Linked DNA regions of Homo sapiens: region 2 is linked to region 1. The links come from fine-mapping of genetic effects on gene expression. Tissue or cell type: blood mononuclear cells. Region 1 holds a variant in brackets; the other region holds the start of a gene. All regions are shown on one strand. Distances are between the middles of the regions.

Region 1 (2,686 bases):
ACTGTATTGCAAGCTCATCAAATGATATTTAAGTCTCAGCAGAGACCTCAAAGGCTCTAAGCGTGTGCTTTTTGAATTTTAATGGTGTAAGAATTGCTTGGATAGGTGTTTATAAAAGATTCAGATTCTCAGATTTCCCTCAGAGATCATTTTATTATATCTAGAGTGGGGCCCAGAAGCCCGCATCTGAAAAAATATACCAGATGATTCTGCAGCAATGGTCTATGTCGCTGTGTCACCCAGGCTGGAGTGTAGTGGCATGCCCACAGCTCACTGCAGCCTTGACCTCCTGGGCTCAAGCAATCCTTCCACCTCAGCCTCCCAAGTAGCTGGGACTACAGGCATGCAGCACCATGCCCGGCTGATTTTTGTCTTTTTTATAGAGATGGGTTTTCACCATGTTGCCCAGGCTGGTCTCAATCTCCTGGGCTCAAGCGATTTGCCTGCCTCGGCCTCCCAAAGTGCTGGGATTACAGGTGTAAGTCACTGTGCCCAGCCTGTGATTGACTCTTAAAGAAAATTTTTAAAAAGTACAACTATTACATATCAACTAAAAATGAAAAGAAAAATACATTTTAAAAAGAAATATAACTTAGCCCTTTTTAATCCACTTGAAATACCTACCTAACCTTCAGATCGTCCTCATCTGTTGAAGTACTTGTACTCATCTTTTTAAGATTAATTCATCCCCAGGTTTGGATAAATATATATCTTTCCTGTCTCCATAGTAACGTAGTTATAAATGACCACTTCAGTGTCACCTAGCTGGGAGAGCAAAGGAAATGCATTGTGACAAAACCCCCTACCACAGCCATACATATCTTGAAACAACTCAAGTTAGAATGGACTATCATTGACCTTGATATCTGCTTATTTTGCAATGATAGGGAAAATGGTATGTGCTTTTTTTTCTCCCCTCTTCACCCATTTTGTATATCCTAGCTTCTCAAAGTGTGGTCTGTGGACCAGTAGCATCAGTATCACCTGAAAGTTTATTTGAAATACAGAATCTAAGGCCCTGCCCTGACCTACTGAATTACAATCTGCCCTGTGAACAAGATCCCTTGTGATCCCTGAGTATATGAAAGATGGAGGTGGTGAACAACAGCC[T/A]TTTTTAGAAAGCAATAAATGAAAGAGTATAGGTTTCCTCACAGCAAAGTTAAGCATGCTGTATGTAACATCAAAATGAACAAGTAAGTTCTATGGACTAAGGTAGACACTTTTCTTTTCCTTCTAAGATCATGTATTTGACACTACTACAAATGATCATTCTGGGCTCTATCCCCAACTTTTGCCCCTGAACCTGGGATAGCCCTGTAACTTGGGCTATCTCAAGATTCTTATTGCCGTGACAGTATTTCACCATGGTTCACTGCTCTTCCTCTCCCAATTCCCCTCCCACCTCCCTCCCTCCAGACACCAAGTCTCACTTCAACAGACTTGATGAGTCTTTCCTATAAGCAAGGCCCTGGGAGAGGGGCTGGAAAGAGGCAGATGCAAAAGAGAACCAAGAAGGACTCTGCCTGCTAAAAGATTGTGACAATAAGAACAAAGATGCGGGCCAGAGATGGTGGCTCACACCTATAATCCCAGCACTTTGGGAGGCCAACTTGGGAGGATCACTTGAGGTCAGGAGTTTGAGACCAGCCTGGGAAACATAGCAAGACCTCATCTCTATAAAAACGTTTTTAAAAAAATAATGATCCAGGCATGAAGGCACACACCAGTAGTCCCAGCTACTTGGGAGGTTGAACCTTGAGCCCAGGAGTTCGAGGCTACATTGAGCCATGATCATGCCACTGCTCTCCAGCCTGGGTTAAGAGTGAGGTCCTGTCTCTAAAAAAATTGAGCCAAGATGGGGCTTGAGAAGTACCAGGGCCCATTGTTAGCACCTTACAAGTATTAACACAGTCCATCTTTACAATAACTCTGTGGCATATGTTATGTACAGTCATTTGCTGAACACCACACAACTGGAAAGGCCACCCAACTAGGAAGGGGCAGAGGGTTGGCTGCAAAGGTTGTGCTCTGGATCACCATATAGGAAAATGGGAGCAAACTAGATGGTGACTGCTAGGGGAAGAGGAGCACATGAAGCTCCCACAAAACCCCCATCTCACAGTGTGTTAATCTTCATGTCAAGTGTGAAGCAAACACAGTTTCCTGCTTCCAAGTTCCACCCCTGCCTTGACTCCTGCACTCATTTCTCTTCAAAGGAACTACTGCCATTTCCACTGAGATTGGGTGTATATAGAAACCACAGCACTGCAAGGCAGATAAGTGCTGTGGAAAGTAACAGCAGAGTGCCATGGAAGCCTGGAGAGCCAAGAGGGTAGTGCCCATCAGGGAACTGGGCCAAAATGAATCTACTTTGCAAATTAATTTCTAGGCTTCCTGAAGGAAGTGGCATTCGTCAAGCCATGCGGGTCATGCAGCTGGCTAAGGGGCAGAAGGCCCTCCAGGCAGTGGGCACAGTGCCAGTCAAGGTATAGGACTGGATAATGCTAAGTCATACCTAAAGTTGTGTTCAGCTGCTTGGAGGGGCAAGTGAGAGAGAGCATAGGAAGAGCAGTCACCCTCTCAGAGGTGACTTGTTTTGCTGTGTTATACAATAAAGACAGCAAAAGTCTTAAGTTCATTTCTAATTCACATGCTTGTTCATCAAGGCATGGTAACTCAACTTACA
Region 2 (2,686 bases), 88 kb after region 1:
TCCTGGAAATTCATAGCGTAAGGGGAGTCAGCAAGCTTTGTGGCAAAGGAAACATCCAGATGGGGACTGGAGATATCAGCCTCCTCTTGAAGACACCCCAAAACTTTACTAGTATCATGTAATAGGTACTAATGTCCTGAACAGAACATGAAAGACACTAACCATTAATGAAACAAATGGACAATTTGGATAAATTCATAATTTATTTACTTATTTTTCTTTCTTTTTGAGACAGGGTCTTATTCTGTCTCCCAGCTGGGCTGGAGTGCAGTGGGGTGATCACTGCAGCCTCAACTTTCAGGGCTCAGGTGATTTTCCCTCCAAGACTCCTAGGCTCAAGTGATTTTCCCTCCCAGTCTCCTGAGTAGCTGGGTCTACAGGTGTGCACCATACCCCGCTAATTTTTGTATTTTATTTATTTATTTATTTTTTGAGACAGAGTCTTGCTCTGTTGCCCAGGCTAGAATGCAGTGGCGCGATCTCGGCTCACTGCAAGCTCCGCCTCCCGGGTTCACGCCATTCTCTTGCCTCAGCCTCCAGAGTAGCTGGGTCTACAGGCGCCCGCCACGATGCCCGGCTAATTTTTTTAATTGTTGGTAGAGACGGGGTTTCACCGTGTTAGCCGGGATGGTCTCAATCTCTTGACCTCGTGATCCGCCTGCCTGCGCCTCCCAAAGTGCTGGGATTACAGGCGTGAGCCACTGCGCCCGGCCTAATCTTTGTATTTTTTTAGAGACAAAGTTTCACCATGCCGCCCAGGCTGGTCTCTAACTGTATTTTAAAAATACAGGCGGCCGGGCGCAGTGGCTCACGCTTGTAATCCCGGAACTTTAGGAGGCTGAGGCGGGCCGATCATGAGGTCAGCAGATCGAGACCATCTGGCTAACACGGTGAAACCCTGTCTCTACTAAAAATACAAAAAAAATTAGCCAGGCGTGGTGGCGGGCGCCTGTAGTCCCAGCCACTTGGGAGGCTGAGGCAGGAGAATGGCGTGAACGTGGGAGGCAGAGCTTGCAGTGAACCGAGATCGCGCCACTGTACTCCAGCCTGGCCGACAGAGCGAGACTCCGTCTTAAAATAAAAAATAAAAAAATAAGAAATACAGGCAGGGCGCGTGGGCTCATGCTTGTAATCCCAGCACTTTGGGAGGCTGAGGCGGACAGGCTGCTTGAGCTCAAGAGTTCCAGACTAGCATCGGCAAAGCAGGGAGACCCCATCTTTACAAAAAAAGTAGCCTGGCATGGTGTTGTGAGCCCATAGTCCCAGCTAAGTAGGGCAGAGGTAGGAGAATCACTTGAGCCCAGGAGTTCCAGGCTGCAGTGAGCCGTGGTCGTGCCACTGGACTCCAGCCTGGGTGAAAGAGCAAGACCCTGTCTCAAAAAGAGAAAGGAAAAAATTTAACATCAAGAACTTCCTTTCATCAAGACACCACTGAGAGAATACGACAACCCACAGAGTAGGAAAAGAGATTTGTAATACACATCTGTAACAATGGACTTCCTCCTAGAATAGAGAGGATAAAAAGTAGCAACACTTCCGCTTGCACCCGGACGGAACTTCCTGTCACGGAAAAGAACATCCTGTCACGGAGAAGAACATCCTGCAGAATTTCCTGTCACGAGGAACATTCCGCAGGAGGAAATGGAGGCTGAAAGGCTGCGACTCCTCGAGGAAGAGGCCAAGCTGAAAAAGGTAGCCAGAATGGGATTTAATGCATCTTCCATGCTCCGAAAAAGCCAGCTAGGTTTCCTCAACGTCACCAGTTACTCCCGTTTAGCCAACGAGCTGCGTGTGAGCTGCATGGAGCGGAAAAAGGTCCAAATTCGGAGCTTGGATCCCTCCTCTTTGGCGAGCGACCGATTTAACTTCATTCTGGCGAGTACCAACAGCGACCAGCTCTTCGTAGTGAACCAGGTCGAAGTCGAAGGCTCCAAGTACGGCATCATCAGCCTGCGAACTCTGAAGATCCCTTCGTTCCACGTGTACGTGCTCAGAAACCTCTACGTCCCCAACCGGAAGGTGAAGTCCCTGTGCTGGGCCTCGCTGAACCAGTTGGACTCTCACGTTCTGCTGTGCTTCGAGGGAATCACAGATGCTCCAAGCTGTGCAGTGCTGCTCCCAGCGTCGCGGTTCTTAAGTGTTCACACAAGAGTTAACCAGCCTGGCATGCTCTGCAGTTTCCAGATCCCAGAGGCCTGGTCCTGTGCGTGGTCCCTCAACACCCGGGCATATCACTGCTTTAGTGCAGGCTTGTCTCAGCAGGTCCTGTTGACCAGCGTGGCGACGGGACACCAGCAGTCATTTGATACCAGCAGTGATGTCTTGGCCCAGCAGTTTGCTAGTACGGCTCCTTTGCTGTTTAATGGCTGTCGCTCCGGGGAGATCTTTGCCATTGATCTGCGTTGTAGAAATCGAGGCAAGGGGTGGAGGGCCACTCGCCTGTTCCATGACTCAGCAGTGACCTCTGTGCAAATCCTCCAAGAAGAGCAATGCCTGATGGCATCAGACATGACTGGAAAGATCAAGCTGTGGGATCTGAGGGCCACTAAATGTGTAAGGCAGTACGAAGGTCACGTGAATGAGTCCGCCTATCTGCCCCTGCATGTGCACGAGGAAGAGGGAATCGTGGTGGCAGTGGGCCAGGACTGCTACACGAGAATCTGGAGCCTCCATGATGCCCACCTGC

Evidence for each region. PIP is the estimated chance that this variant, and not a neighbour inherited with it, causes the effect.
Region 2: it holds the start of DCAF4L1, and the variant in region 1 is fine-mapped to the expression of DCAF4L1 in blood mononuclear cells (TOPMed, PIP 0.98).

The regions. Positions count from the first base shown.
Region 1 is chr4:41,891,819-41,894,504 of GRCh38, forward strand. No RefSeq gene overlaps it. Among named protein-coding and RNA genes, the nearest start is that of LINC00682, 11 kb to the left of the region's middle. The variant T/A (reference allele first, on the strand shown) is at 1,111.
Region 2 is chr4:41,980,152-41,982,837 of GRCh38, forward strand. It overlaps DCAF4L1 (DDB1 and CUL4 associated factor 4 like 1), which reads left to right and starts at 1,605. Exons shown (of 1, transcript NM_001029955.4): 1 at 1,605-2,686. The coding sequence starts at 1,642. RefSeq lists enhancers at 1,336-2,535, 2,095-2,686.